Regions from separate parts of the Homo sapiens genome. Here region 2 is linked to region 1. A link means that fine-mapping ties the variant in region 1 to the expression of a gene that starts in the linked region. Tissue or cell type: whole blood. Region 1 holds a variant in brackets; the other region holds the start of a gene. All regions are shown on one strand. Distances are between the middles of the regions.

Region 1 (8,108 bases):
ATGGGACTTCTCGGCCTCCATAATCATGTGAGCCAATTCCTGTAAGTCTCCTCTTACTTGCTTATATGTTTCTCTGGAGAACCCTGACTAATACAGGTACAATGCTGGATGTATCAGTAGTTTGTTTTGTTTTATTGCTGAATAGTATTCCACTGTGTGAAAATATCACAATCTACTTATCTTCCTGTTGATAGTCTTTGAATCATTTCAGATAAGTTATGAATAAAGCTGCCATGAAGATTCCCTATACAAGTCTTTTTGGAGATATAAGTTTTCATTGGATAAGTATCTAATAGAGGAATCACTGCATTGTGTAAGTGTGGGTGTAACTTTATAAAAACTTTCAAGCTATTTTCCTAAGGGACTGTATATTCTTTACCATGCTCCAAATCTATATAATGCAGCATTCTCCAGTGATAGAAAAGTAATAGGATATGTGTATATAGACAGAAAGAGACTTATTGTAAGGAACTGGCTTATGTGATTATGGAGACGGGCAAGTCCAAATCTGCAGTGTGAGCTGGCAGGCTCGAGATCCAGGATAGCTGATGGTGCAGATGAAGTCTGGAGGCAGTCTGCTGGGAAATTCTCCCTTCCCTGGGGCATCTGATCTTTTTGTTCTGTTCAGGCTTTCAGCTGATTGGATGCAGCCCACCTACGTTATGGGGAGCAATCTGCTTACTCGCAGTTTACTGATCTAAATTTTAATCTCATTCCAGGACACTCTCCAAGATGAAATTAACCATCACACATCCACCCCTTGTCATCCTGGTGCTCATACACATCTCCTTACACCACGATTAATCTCCACTAAAGGCGATAACAAGGTCATACTTCCACCTAACATGATACAACTAGTCTGCGTACAATGGAAGATGCATTGACTCTTTTCCCAGAAAAGGATGCAAAGTCCTTGGATGATGTTTGCTCTTTTCTTCGATGTCTTGCAACTTAAATACCATCATGTAAAGTTAACAATATTTAAATGCTACACTAGGAAGTCAGTATGTCTTCTGTTACATGATAAAGGGACAAGAAGTGGAGAAGAAAGCAAAGATATTTGCTTAACATACACACACACAATAAGGGGGAAACACTCATGACAGTTGCAGTCCTCATTCCTGTAACTGGTCACATGGTTGTAGCTGGTATTCCTTACTCCCATGGATTACGTGTTCCCTTTACCATCAGCAAGCACCTCAGTCGGTCATAGTTCTGTACCTGGTGGGATGACTTGAATCATTACTCCTAAAAGGTCTGGGCCATTCATAGCCCTGCCTGAATTGGGTTATAGTTTTCCCTTGACTTTAATCACAGGCCATAGTAATAGTGGGGGGATACCCTAGGAAATCTCCTGTATTCCAGACATGCTTTTCCTTATCTCTCTAGTGTGGATCCCCTTGGCAGTCAGGATCAGTTACTCCAGTCAACACAAGATCTCCCTTCTCTGCCTGCTGATTCAGAGGCATGGGGGACCCAAGGTATTGTCCGTCCTCCTCAGCAACTCATTGGAGTTCTGGCTGCCTTGTATCCCTGCTGGCAGTTGGGGTTGTCAATATTTAACTTAGCCATTCTAGTAGTTGAGAAGGGATATCTTAGAGTGGCTTAATTTACATTTACATGATGACCAATGATGCTGAGTCCCTTTCATGGGCTTACTGGCTGTTTCTATCCCTTTCTTGTGAGGTGTTCCTGTGTTGTGATGTGTTCAAATCTTCCTTGAGTTCTTTTATTGAGTTGTTCTTCTTTTAACATGGATTTGTAAGAATTGTCTTTGTTTGTTTCTTTGAATCCAAATTTACAAGGCATTTTTTCTAACTTAGGTTTTATAATATTTTACCCCAGTCCATGGCTGGTCTATTTTTTAACACTGTCTTTTGAAGAACAGAAGTTCTACATTTTGATAAAGTATAATTTATCATTTCTTTCTTTACCCTGCCTAAGAAATCTTTTGCATAAAGATTTTCTGTGAAGATATTCTATATATATTCTAGAAGCATTATAATTTTAGCCTTCACATTTAGTTCTATGATAATCCTTAATTTAATTCTTTATAAGGTGTGAGGTAACAATTCCTTTCATCTTTTTCCCCATATGGATATCAGCTTTCCCAGCATCATTTGTTGAAAAGACTTAAATTGACTATATAAATGTGGGCATATTCTGGGACCTTATATTTCTGTTCCAGTGATTTAATCTAATGCCACTACATTATATAGCCATATTAATCAATCTAATGTATTGATTAAGATTAGTATGGCTATGTAATGAGTCTTGAAATTGGATAGCGTTAAGGCTTTGAACTTTGTTCTTCTTTCTTAAGATGTTTTGGGTATTCTAGGTTTTTTGCATTTCCATATATATTTTCGAATCAGCTTGTCAGTTTCTTTAAAAAGGCCTGTTGGAGTTATGATTGTAATTGCACTGAATCTACAAATTATTCTGGGAAGAATTAACATCTAAGCAATACTAAATCTTCCAGTCCATGAACTGAGTATGTATTTCCATTTATTTAGATCTTCTTTAATTTCTCTCAGTAACATTTTATAGTTTTTAGCATACTGTTCTTGTATGTCATTTATTTGTTTATTCCTATGTATTGATAGTTCTTTGTTATTACAAATTGACTTGTTTTTAAAATTCCATTTTAAAATTGTGTGCTATGAGTTTATAGAAATTTCATTGGTTTTTATCTAATGACCTTATGTCCTGTGGCCTTGCTAAATTTACTTACATATTCTAGTAGTTACTTATAGATAGGATTTGCCAGGTAGGTAACCAGATTGAATAGAATCAGTTTTAGTTCTTCCTTTTCAATTTGAATAACTGTTATTTCATTTTCTTACTTTATTGCATTGGCTAGGACCTCCAATACAATGTTGAAGAGGAGTGAGATTACATATTGCAGCATTTTCTTATCTGACATGCATTGTATTTTGTTTGTCTCACAGCTCAGAAAGGCCTTACTGACCATTCTGTCTGAAATACATCTTCCTCTTTTTATCATTATCTCAGCATCATACTTAATTACTTTATATTCCTTGTCATAAATTATATGTATTTCTTTGTTGTCTGTCTCTTACACTAATCCGTAAGCGCTTTATTGGAAAAACACTGTTTTCACAATCACATCCTCAGTGAATAACACAGTGGCTCTTAGTAGATACTCAGTAAATGTTTTGTAGAATTAGTCAATATTGGGAGGAAGTTTTAGCAGTTATGCAGTCTATTCTCCTTACTGTCTTAATCTCCTTGGCAAAACTGAGGACAAGTATTTTTTCTTGCAAGAAAATTTTCATATTTCTCTTTTCACCTTTCTAATTTTTAGGAGATTTAATTTCAAATTTTCTCATAGAAACCACTTATATTTAATACTTTCAAAAGTTCTTAACTTACATTTTATAAAAAGCAATACAATTCTTTCTACTAATTTTTGAAAAATTATCGTGATGGCGGGTGTTACATACACTAAAAAGTTAATCAATATTCAGCATTTTGCAGTGGTTCAAATATAGCAACAAAGTAAACACATTTCACAAATATCTACTAAGCAGGTGTTAGGTCACCATTTTTTACTCTTTAAGATCTGGAGAAATTGCAGCGATGAAGTGAACTTGTTAGGCAAAATATTTCCTTATTTTTGCCTCTCATATTTTGCCCTAATCTAGGCCATGCTTCATTTGCTTTTTATATAATTTAAGGCTGATGAAGGTAAGTTGCGTTCAGCCTAGGACACAGTGATCTAGGATTTAGCCAAAAGGCAAATATCTTTCTTCCTGCTGCTCAATTTTAGCAGCTCCATTTAAACAGCTGGTAGAAAGTAAAGCTTCAGTTTATGTGCACATAGGAGGAAAATAATATTTTGTGTTTTCTATTGTGTGTTGAACTAAGTCCTTGGCTTATTCTACTGACCGACAATGGAGATTTCCTTAAATAAATAGGTAAACACATTCTAAGTTGGGTGTTCATTCATTCAACTCCCTCTTTCCCTCATCCCTCCTCTTTCTGTCCTCTTCCTTCCTCCTTTCCCCCGACTTCCCTCCCTCTCCTTGTACCTTTGCTCTTTCTTCTACCTTTCTTCCTTTGTTCTCTCTCCTGAGCTCTGTCTTTGTTACAGTCAATGCTCTTGTGCAAATGTAGTAGAGAATAAAACACCTGTACCCTATGCATTGCAGCTTACATTGTAGTGGGAGAGGTAGACAGTAAAGAAGCAAATATAAACATGCGACAATTTTTGCTCATCGTAAGTGCTACAAAGTGTTTTGTGGTGTGTGTGTGTGAATGGATGCGAGATAGAGACAGCAGGACAGTGAGAATGAATGAGAATCATGAAAGGCCTCCTCAAGGAAAGGGATATGTGAAGTGAGCTAGTGAGCTGTTCATTTAGAAGATCCAGGAAAAGTGTGTGAGGCAGTGGGAATAGCCGGTAAGAAACCCTGAGA[AG/A]GGAATGAGCTTGGTGTCAGAGAAACTACAGTACAGAAGCTTGGCCTAAGTGAAGTGAGCTTGGGGGGAGCACTGTGAGATGAGGCCAGAGAAGGAAATGGTGACTCCAGAGGACGTGGGTAGGCTATGGTGAAGAGTTTCAGTTTGATTCCAAGTGTAGTCAAAAGACAGTGGTCCATGTGTGGTATTATTTCATTTTGTCATTTAGACATTTTGAAAACATCTCTAATTTGATCAAAATACTTAAGTTCAAATTCTCATGTTAGTTTTGTCTTCCAGAAATAGAAAAAGAAATACATGTGGCAAAAACTGACAACATTGAAAAAAGATGAACAAATCTACAATTACAAATGGAGAGTTCAACACTTCACTGTTGATGATGGATAGAATAAATAGACAGATGGCCGCGCGGTGGCTCACGCCTGTAATCCCAGCACTTTGGGAGGGCAAGGCGGGTGGATCACCTGAGGTCAGGAGATCGAGACCAGTCTGGCCAACATGGTGAAACCCCGTATCTACTAAAAATGCAAAAATTAGCCGGCCATGATCGCGGGTGCCTGTAATCCTAGCTACTCGGGAGGCTGAGGCAGGAGAATTGCTTGAACCTGGGAGGCAGAGGTTGCAGTGAGCCAAGATCGCGCCATTGCACTCCAGCCTGGGCGACAGAGCAAGACTCCATCTCAAAAATAAATAAATAAATAAACAGACAGACATTCTGTAAAGATTCAGAGGATGATCTTTTATTTCTATGGATTTAGGGGGTACAAGTGCAATTTTGTTACCTAGATACATTGCATAGTGGTGAACTCTGGGCTTTTAGTGTACATTGTACTCAATCTGTGATTTTTCATGGCTTACTCCTCTCCCATCCTCCTGCCTTTTGGAGTTTCCAGTGTCTATTATTTTACTCCCTATGTCCATGTGTACCCATTGTTTAGCTCCCACTTGTAAATGAGAATGTGCAGTATTTGAGTCTCTGTTTCTGACTGACTTCACTTAGGATAATGGCCTTCAGTTCCATCTGTGTTGCTGCAGAGGACCATCTTGAAGAACTCTATCAAGCCCACTTGGTTTAATTGCCTTTGTATTCTTTTAAATGAAACACTCCACCCTATAAGAACAGAATGCACCCTTTCTTCAAGTGCCATACAGCATTCCGTTAGATAGACCAAAAGTTTCAATGCATTTAAAAGCATTGAAATCATACCAAGCATGTTCTCTGACCACAACAGAGCTAAACAGAAAATCAGTGTCTGAAAAATCCCCAAATATTTTGAAATTAAACTACACCCTTCTGAAGGACTCACGGATCAAAGAAGAAATGACAAGGGAAATTAGAAAGTCCTTTGAAATGAATAAAAATGAAGAGACAACGATTACTCTTAAAATCAGAATACTAACATACGAACAGATAGAGATGTGTATCCTTCCCATTTGCCTGCTTCTTGAATTTCCTACTTCCTGCCTATGTTGGGGTCGTTGCAGTTTCTCCATGGGAGGAGCGTGGCTGTGCTCCTGCTGCAGGTGTGCGCCTGACCCTGGTAAAGTCTGGCTATGCCTATTTAACTAGTACTCTTAGTCATTCTACTCTAGTTTGAGTGAACGAACACTTACCATTTTCAAAGGCCACGTTCCGGGAACTATGAGGGGAATTTATGGATCAGTTACAGACCAGTTCAAGTTACAAGATCCTTATGCTAATGTTAATTAAAATCTCATCACAGCCACTTCCTTTTTCAGTCCCACCTGGGGAATTCTGGTCCACTTCATCTCTACATGGTAGACTTTGTGAGTCTTTCTTCAGTTCCTTTCTGCAGCTTCTGTTTCTGCGAACTCTCCGTTTAATTGTTTTGACTTTTTGGAATTTTATAATCTTCAAGTATCTCTACCTTCAGTCTGGTATCAGCTTGTTCTATTTAATTTTGTTTATCTAGGCGTCACCATTAGGCATTAAGCTAGGCACTAGGTTTTCAAATGGAATGGGAGCCTTATAAATCAGGTAATTAATTAGTGTGTGGTAAATATTTTGACAGAATGTTGGAAAGGCTAAGTAAACATTCATTCAGTGAACATTTATTGGCCACCTACTGTGTACCAGGCATTGTGCAATAGGGTCTGTCTCATCAGAGAAGACTTCAGAGCACAGTTGGCTTTTGAGTCCAATTCTGGTTATTTCAGGAGTTTTCAAGGTACAGAGAGGGGCGTGGTATTCTAGGCAAAGGTGTTTAAAGGTGAGGCTTGTAGTTGTGAAGGAGTAAAGCATGACCTGGGAATGGGTAATCTGCTCTGGCACTAGGTATTCGGTAGGGACTTGGAAATAGTGAGTGAGTGGCAAGAGAAAGGACTAGAAAGGTTTGGGAAGAAAGGACTAGAAGGGTTCTGGTGTTTTTTTTTTTGTTTGTTTGTTTTTTTTTTAGGGAGTTTGGTCCTATTTTAGTGGGCATAGTGTTTATTAGTGTCTTGGTGATTCTCACCAACACATACTGTCTGTATCTCTTATTCCTTTGGTTGTTATTTTGGTCACTACAATGGTCAGCGGCTCCAAGTGGTGGTGGTGAATGCCAGCCCTGTCGTATCATACTTTTGTGGAAAGTGGGGGGCGGGGGTGAACATGAATAGAGAAGGAATCCTGAAGCAAGGAGCCAAGTATGTGGTATTTTTCTGCCTGGAGTATTTCCTTCTAGGAATTAATTAATTCACTAGCTTCTTGAAATCTTTTTTTTAAAAAAAAAAGTAGAGGAGGAAGAGGTTGAGGTATAAACACATTGCTTTGAAAACACCCTTGTGGGATAAAATTTCAATTAATTGCCCACCCTGAAATTTTTTATTTTTTTCCTTTAGGTTTCTTGCTATTTAAAGATTTTTGTTTGAATGAAATTAATGAAGCTGTACCTCAGGTGAAGTTTTATGAAGAGGTAAGAAGTAACTGTTTTACTGATGCTTTTCTTTCAAAAGCATATTTAAACTGTACTTTGGAACATATTAAGACTACTTAATATCTTACAAATATTTAGAAATTCATTGAAAGTAATTAGTAGTGCAAAATATAGTATCAAGTTTGAGATGCTAACAGGTATGAAAAGCTGAGTATGCCATAAAAGTCGCATTCTTAAAGGCTTCAGAGTGCTATGGAAGCAATGAGGGACAGTTGGACTAAAGTTCCAGAGATGGGAGGCTCATCCAGAGCTGCACCAAGGAGGACCAGTTATTTTATTTTCTGTGGAAGCGTGCTAGTTCTGGAGATGTGAGCAGAGGCAGAGGACTGCTACTAGCTTTGAAAGAGATACTAGCCAAGGTTTTCTGGTCATAATGGACTGACAAATTGGAGATTTGGTGGGGGGTGTGGTGGGGTGCTCAAATGCATGACTGATTTTCCCCATAAGAAATTTGGTGAAATCTGAGGTTGGAGGGGAGCTGAAGAGAGAGGCCAGAAACTTCCAGAAGGCACATTGAAATCTCCTACAGCCTTACAGTGCCTAGGAAACACAGACCTGCTGGAGTCTGGAGTCTGAAAACAGAATGGGCGAGAGATGGAAACTCTAGAAGATGTGGTCTGGTGACATTGGGTATCTACAGCTACTTTTCACCTAGGGTTTCTGTTGATTTCAGGTGTAGCAGGCAGATGGGCATCCAGGCTTGGCTGCTTCTGGGAGACAAAAATTGCA
Region 2 (8,108 bases), 76 kb before region 1:
TTCTCTACTGAACATCGTTTCAGTGCTAATAGCTAATAGTTTAATAAAAGCAAAGCTTGGCATCATACCTTTTGGCAGATCTTTATAAAGTTGTCATACATAGAGCTGCCATTAAAGCTTGTAAAGCTTTGTGGATAAAAGCAGCATGAAAAGCAGTTCATATGATGTGTGTGACAACAAACAGAATTGTGATCCAAATTACAGGTGAAACGGGACAGTGGCCCCTGGGAGGCTAGAAATACCTGCAGAGGCTTACGGAGTGAGATGTTTGTAAATAAAGCCATTCAAACATCAATTGTGTGTGGTTTTCTTGAGAAGCAACTGTATTTAAGGGACTGCTTATACAAAATCAAGTTCTTCTTAGCAAGGATTGCTTTAAATATTCTGACTTGAATGAAGGCCAGTCATGTTCTGCCATTTTCAAAAATCTTCTAACTGGAGTCTTAGAGTTGATTTTCTTTTCATTTGTGATTAATTTTCCAGAATAACATTCCCAGCTCCCACCCCACCCAGCGTTTATAGTCCAGAGATTCTGAGAGTAGGAAGTCTTAGTAAAGCCCAGAATCTAAAACAAATAAGACCAGTCAGTTCTCTAGTTAGCTTTTTTCCTTTCAAGTTGTTAGCAATATAAACTCTGGAAAGCCTAAACTTTAATGCACCCATCTCAGCAACATCTCCTGTAACGATGGAAAGGCATAGAAAAGAAGAAAAGGGAACATTATTAATCTTGTGGGAACGCTGGAGTTTTGTCTATTATCACAAGCAGCGTGAGCCCCAAGTCATTTAAATCCTCTGGGGGTGGGAGACATAATTATTTGCAAGGGAGCATTATTAGCTAAGTACAAATGGGTTGCTATTTGTTTTTTCTGTTCTTTGTGATGATTACAGGCTGGGGATGGTGTTTAGTAACAGGATCCAGCAGGTCAGTTATGACAACTTCATCATCACTGTCATTAACCCCTTTTGTTTGCAGTGAACACAAAAAGCTGTTCAGTATCAAGAGAGTCAAGAAAAAGGGAAAGAAGAGGGGGTGGAGAAAGTGAGACAACCAAAGAGACAGCCAGGGAACAGAAATTCATACACTATGAACACCAGAAAAAAATACCCCTGGGTAATTGAGTCAGCTGACTCAAATGGTGTAGGGGCCTCAGTTAGAGGACCAAATTTTGGACTCCTTGGTCTTTCTGCCAAAAGAGTAATTGCTCATGTTTATAGATGCAAATGTTTTTGCCATTTTGGTTCCTAGAAATGCCCTAGGGAGATGTTATTTTTGGTAAGGGGTCTTCCTGCTTCAAGTGTAATGACTGTGAACAACTAGTTTCAGTATCTTCTCTAGCATGCCAGGGTAAAATGAAGCAAAATAAATAGAGGAAGTGCCATGACCTTTATTGAGGATCTACTGGGTGCCAGGCAAAATGCTTTTTTTTTTTTTTTTTTTTTTTTTGAGACAGGGTCTTGCTCTCTTGCCCAGGCTGGAGTGCAGCAGTGCAATCTTGGCTGACGGCAAGCTCTGCCTCCCGGGTTCCTGCCATTCTCCTGCCTCAGCCTCCCAGGTAGCTGGGACTACAGGCGCCCGCCACCACGCCCAGCTTATTTTGTTTTTGTATTTTTAGTAGAGATACAGTTTCATCGTGTTAGCCAGGATGGTCTCCATCTCCTGACCTTGTGATCCACCCACCTCAGCCTCCCAAAGTACTGGGATTACAGGTGTGAGCCACTGTGCCTGCCCAGTGCTGCGATCTCGACTCACTGCAGCTTTCGCTTCCTGGGTTCAAGCGATTCTTCTGCCTCAGCCTCCTGAGTAGCTGGGATTACAGGCGTGCACCACCATACCTGGCTAATTTTTGTATTTTTAATAGAGACATTATTTTTAATGTATTTTTCCTGTTGGCCAGGCTGGTCTTGAACTCCTGGCCTCAAGCGATACACCTGCCTCAGCCTCCCAAAGTGCTGGGATTACAGGTGTGAGCCCCACGCCCGACAAGGTGCATTTTTATGTGCTTTTTCTCCTCTGTCTTCTCAACAACCCTGGGGTAAAAGGCCTCATTTCCACTTTTCCTATGAGAACAATAAAGTAGAAAGAGGTAAAAGACTGCCTCTAAGATCACCCAGCACAGAGCAGGGATTTGATTTCAGGTGTGTCTTGTTCCAAACTTAATATACTGTGCTGCTGGGGGAAAACAAAGAGCAAAAGGTTCTTAACTGAAGTCAAAGACGACCAAGAAAATGTAGGCAGATGTCAGGTCTGATCATGTGGATGCTCAAATGATAAACAGACACATTGAGAGAAATTGTATTAATTAAATCATAAAAATATGTTCCGCTTTTTGGGGAATTTACTCCTCCTCCTGGGGTGACCCTTGACAAGACATTCTGTCTTCCTGTTTTTAAGCAAAAAAAAAAAAAAAAAGTGGGTAGAAGATGAAAGTTTGATATTTCGCTCATGCATAGCTTTGTCTCCTTAATATATTTTGTGCTTGCCTGTCATTTCAGCTTTCTGCTGGCAGACGAAGCTCCTTCAACTGCCATTCCTACTTCTGACACTCCTCTTGTCCTTTTCAGGACAACTTTATGCCTATTGTGCCTTGGGTCTTGAGAAGCATGTGGTAAAACTGGCCAGTGGTGATGGCAGGCATAGCAGGGAATCAGATTGAGGGGGGCTGTGGCGTGGGAGAGAAAACAAAAGAGGGAAACAGGCTATTTGATGACAGAATCAGGCTGCTTCTGCAATGACATTACATGAAATATCTGAAATTTGACCTTAACTGTATCTGGTGGGTCCCGTTAACCCTGTAAGTTATGGACAGAACGTTCACTCAAATTCTAGCAACGTCTAGGCTCATGGAAATACGTGACCAATTCAGGTGAATGAAAGGGATTTTAAAACATTAATTTCCAGCTTAGGTCTTCCTAAGACTGCCTGCGTGTCCCTTACCACCACTCCAGCCTGAGTGTCACATGGATCCTGAATGCGGACTTGTGTGCACACTGTAGAAAAATAAGCAACTGAAAACCCCAGGCATCGGGGTGGAGTGATGATGAAAGACACCGAGACCGAAGATCAGGAAGCTGGAAATTCCCCCCAGCTTCGGTGTTTGGGCTGTATCTCGCTTTTCCACTTCCCTAAATCACCCTCGTGGTGCGAGTGTGCTCGCAGCAGATGCTCCCTAATTGTCTCTTGTATTGACCGTAAAACCCTAACGACAGGAATACTCTCTCTCCTTCTATTTCTCAACACCATTTCAACACCCAAACTAAAACCTCTCACCTGAGTGTAAGGGAGTGGTGACCTTCTTAAGCGGAGAGCTCTTCCATCAGAGGGCTCCCTAAGGGCATCTCTGTTCCTAGCCGGGGAGCCGTCACCCCACTTTGTTCTGCTTAGCCTAAGACACGCAACTTTTTCCAGCTTTTACTCTTCGCTGAATTCTCACGGTGGGGTTGGGGGGATGTTCAGGCTCAGGAGCGAGGTTGGGGGCCCGGCCCGCTGGGCGCTGTTCACCGGTAGCCCGGACCAGAGCAGGAGTTTCATCATTACCTGCTGGGATAGGTGGGACACATGTATTTCCGGGGCCACCCCAGACCTCCCGGAGGATGCTGATTGACACTGTCCAGTTTGAGAACTACTGTGTCCAGGGAGCAGAGGCCTCCCCATAACCCCTTGGGTTGTGGACGTCTGGCCCAGGGCTTCTCTGGGTGAGCGGGGCGGGCATCAGAGCGCGTGGAACCTGGGGCGGGAGGTCGGGGCAGTGAAGGAGGAGGAGAAGGAGGAGGCGGAGACCGAGGGGGAGGGAGGGGAGGAGGAAGAGGAGGAGGAGTCCCTCGTGGCCACCCCGAGGGGAGGGCGACCGTAGAGACTTGGTCGGGAGGCGCCGGCCCAGCGAGGCCGCTGGGACTGTGCACTGAGGGGCGCTGACCGTTGGACGCGCGCTCCCCGCAGACCCTCGCTGAAGGAGCAGGGGGCGGCGCGCGTGCGCGGGGCGCCGGGCGGCGCGCGAGGGGGCGGAGCGGGGAGGCGTGCTGCGACCCCGGCCGGCTACAGCCTGCGGCGCGCGCAGAGCGCTAGTGGGGCGCGCGGCGCGCGCGCGGGGCGGGGGCGCGCGGAGGGGGGGGCTGCCCCGGGGCGGCCCCCCCAGGTCGGGGCGCGGCGGGCGGCGGCGGCGGGCGCGCGTCCCGTCCAGGTCCGGAGTAACCGCCGCCGCCGCCGCCAAAGCTCGCCAACATGGCGGACCTGGAGGCTGTGCTGGCCGATGTCAGTTACCTGATGGCCATGGAGAAGAGCAAGGCGACCCCGGCCGCCCGCGCCAGCAAGAGGATCGTCCTGCCGGAGCCCAGGTACCAGCTGCCCCGGCCGGCGCCGGCCCCAAGCCGCCGCCCCCTGCGGCCGCCAGCTACCCCCTGCTTCCTGGAGGGTCGGGCGCTGAGCCTCCGCTGCCCCGGGGCGGGTGACACAGCGGAGCGGGCGATGCGGGGCCGGCCTCGTCGTTCCAGTCTCTGAAATGGGGCATCGGAGGGCCGGTGGGGGGCACCCCGGGAGAGAGCGCTCCAAAGTGCCCGGCGCGGCGCCCTGCGCGCAGCGAGCGCCCCAGCCAGGGTCTGGTTATGACTTGGCTGGACCAGCTCCATCCCTGTCGCCCCCTCCCCCCAGCCCTGTCCTGTCCTGCCCTGTCCCATCCCCGTGGTTCTTCCTGTTGCATTGGTGTAGTCCCCGTTGGCTCCTTGCCTGTCACTGCTTTGCGCTCCATCCTGGTCGCTCCTTCTTCCCGGGCTCATTGGTCCCCCTTTCCAACTCCATCCTCTCACCTCCCTCTGGGCCGCTTACCTGGGGACTGCAGGCTTGTTGCTTATTGTCCGAGGTAGTTAAACTGCTGTTTTCAGTACTTGCTCTTCTTGAAGTCTATTAAGTCTAGTCACCTTCTTCGGCTTCTCTTCTATTTTGTCCCCGGGCAGGATTTTGACCCACTCAGTATTCTTTTTGGTGCCAAGTGTGTCACCTGAGCTGCTTTCCTCAACTTGTAGATCTACTGGTGGCACTTTATTAAAAAATTGAAACAGGAGTCACTTAAAAAGACACTTGAATGGGTGATTCCAGACAGGAATTTGTTGTTAAATTATCAAAGGAGGGCCCGATTGAATTGGCGAGGGGCTCGGTGAGGTGCATACCAAGTTGCAATTTTCTCTCAAATGATTTATTATTAAGGTACTAGTAAAATTTTTTCTAGTTCATATCATTAGCACTTCCCCAGAAAAAATAGTTTGTCTGGTTAATAGTGAGTTTTAAATAACGTATCAAGGCTTCAGTGATGGATTTTTTTTTCTCTAGCTCCTTTCCTAATTAACACCATCATGAGTTGTACAGCTAATGTGATTCCTTGATGCTAAATAGCTCTTGGAATTGATGCTCAAAAGAGGCATCTTGTTTATGGTGAATTTGAAACCATGCAATTCTGTAAAATATTGGAATCTAAACCAAAGTTATTGTCCATTTGAAATCATCAGTCCTTCAAGCGTTAGGCGCCCAAGATTGCTTAAATGTTACCTAATGCTAAGTGATCATCATCTGATTTTTTTTACAAGTCATCCATGAGCCCTATGATACAGAAAATACCAGTCCCCTTGTTATTTGTTGTGAAAAGCTAAATTGTGCAAATGAAGACATGCTTGCTAGGTATTTTGAGCTTGCTTTTCCTCCTTAGCCCATGCCTCTTGTTGGTTTTGCAGGATGTGCTACTCTTTGATAGACAATGCCAAGTAGTGAAAATGAGGGAAAAGTGCAAACCTTTCTGCAATGTCGTGAGTTTAACACCCCTATTCCAGAGTGTAGCATATCTGAAGCTAATTGAAAAAAATCAATGCTGCTTAAAATTTCCGGCAAATGGGAAACTTACTTAGAGAACAAGAACGCCTACATCAAACCTAAATTTCACCAAAAAAACTGTACATTTCTAATGTGGTAGAAAAAGGCTTAATTCCTCTTTTGTCTTGCCTTTCCTAGTGTCCCTCCACCACCCAAAGGCAGGGAGTCCTAAATATGTAGTATTTCTATATACAAAATTGATAAATCTCAACTCATGGGCAGTTTTTTTTTTGGGGGGGGCTAGTATATAATATTAATAAAGTTAGGAACTTCTGTTCAGTTTTTTTTTTCTTGGTGTTTGGAACTTAATGTGACTTCTGCTTTTTTAGTGTCCCTCTTAAGAACGTACTTATGCACTTAGGGTGTTCACTTCCTTGTATGAATGCCTTTGTTTTTCAGTGGTATTCTTTGGTAATGCTTTCTTTTAAGGCAGAGTAAGTGACAGCCAGCATTATTTCTCATGACATTTGAAAATTGAGAAATACCAACCAGAGAGTAATTTTAGGAAACAGCCCTTCAGTAATTGTTACTCTGTTGCTCTTTTTAAAATAGACTCTCGAATTGGGCCATTGGAACCTCCTCCTGAGATTCTAATTTGTTTTCTACTTATCTTAGTGGCTTTGGCTTTAGTTTTGTAATGTAGCTATTTACATAGTAACAGTCACTCCTTGTGCTGTGTTAGGATTCTGTTACATTGAGATTATCAGGTATAACATCTTGCAAAATTCTCTCTACCACTGGATGGCAGTTAGTGGCCTACCTATTTGATTTGGAGGTTGGGGGTTGGGGAATTTCTAGATCCTGTAAAAAAGTTAATTGCATGTTAAAATGCCCCAGCCTAATGACTTAAATAGCTGGTATGACTTCACACTATTGGTAAAAGGGATACGGGTCAAATGTTTTCTGATAAGTTTCTATTTCAGCTTCATTATAGAGGAAGCCATGTGATCACCAGTTTTTGGTATTCTTGAAAGAGATGTTCAGATTTGTATTTTTGGTATCTGAATGAGAAGCATACATTTTAATTTGCCTTTGGTCTATCACTAGTGATTTTTTTATTTCCAGCAAATTATTTGCAGTCACTATTCTTTGTGCTTCCTTATTTTAGTTACTTTGCCTTTCCCACAGTTTTAAACAGAAGAGCATCAGAACGAAATATCTAGCTAATTTAAATGAAACACTGGGTTTGCAGCTTCCTGCCTATTACAGGAGAGTCTCAGAAAATGGAACATTCTGCCCAGGGGAGATTTTGCTTCCCTGAGATGGCAAGAGGCAAATATTTTGTTATGTTGACACTTTATTCAGTTAACCAACCAATGAGTGCAAATCCTGGAAAAGCTGACTGTTTGTCCAAATGGTATAGCTGCTTTAGTTTACTGAAATGTTGTTGAGCTAATGTAGCTGATAATGGGGCCTACTGGGAGTAGTAAACTGTGACCCACAGCCTCCCTTGCAGGCCCAGTTAAAACAGGAGCATTTAGATGTGCAGGCCAGTTGTTTTACATCATGTTGGAAAAGAAATACTTTTATTTAAGTAAGGTCTAATTCACAAGCAAAGGCCCACAAAGGGTCATCATCTTAAGCCCTGGAGTGATTCAGACGACTTTTACTGTAGGCTGTATTACTCTGTTACTCTTTTTTTTTTAAAAAAAACAGAATGAAATTCAGATGACTTGAAATCACATATAGTTGAAGGCGGTTGAGTAATGTGAACTTCATCTTTCCCCTGGAGTCTTATTTCTATTTACTGGACATTTCAAATGTTGGATCACCTATTGCAAAGCTTGTCCTTTCAAAGTATTCATACAATATGATAGGAAGGTCTGAAACAACATTTTAAAGATTCTTTATAATTTTCTAGGAGCACTGACAGTCCTTAAAGGACATTTATGATACCGTTTATGACATTAATTCAGTACATAGTTGTAGAGCCATTTCTATGAGCCAGGCACGGGGTACTATGACAAACCCAGCCACAGCCCCTTCCTTCATGGAGCTTATAGACTAGTGTGAAATACAAAGATTTGAGCCAAGAAGGATGTTTGCTTTGAAGTGTATTTGCTTGAAGATTTTATTTAACCACAAACAAATAGCGTTTGGATGACTTTTATTACTCTATATGCATAGAATATAGAATAATAAAGAATGAATATAGAATATAGCATAATGCATAGAACACATGATGTTTGGTGTTTTACAATAATTTGTTAGTGATTACCTTTGAAGAACTATCTAAACATAGTCTCCATGGTGA

The links. PIP is the estimated chance that this variant, and not a neighbour inherited with it, causes the effect.
Region 2: it holds the start of GRK3, and the variant in region 1 is fine-mapped to the expression of GRK3 in whole blood (TOPMed, PIP above 0.99).

Annotation. Positions count from the first base shown.
Region 1 is chr22:25,637,308-25,645,415 of GRCh38, forward strand. It overlaps GRK3 (G protein-coupled receptor kinase 3), which reads left to right. Exons shown (of 21, transcript NM_005160.4): 3 at 7,285-7,358. Among named protein-coding and RNA genes, the nearest start is that of GRK3-AS1, 76 kb to the left of the region's middle. The variant AG/A (reference allele first, on the strand shown) is at 4,443.
Region 2 is chr22:25,560,822-25,568,929 of GRCh38, forward strand. It overlaps GRK3 (G protein-coupled receptor kinase 3), which reads left to right and starts at 3,854. Exons shown (of 21, transcript NM_005160.4): 1 at 3,854-4,332. The coding sequence starts at 4,220. It overlaps GRK3-AS1 (GRK3 antisense RNA 1), which reads right to left and starts at 4,595. Exons shown (of 4, transcript NR_183564.1): 1 at 4,259-4,595; 2 at 3,269-3,538; 3 at 2,482-2,660; 4 at 67-677. RefSeq lists silencers at 3,780-3,879, 4,190-4,439 and enhancers at 4,551-5,066, 6,349-6,528.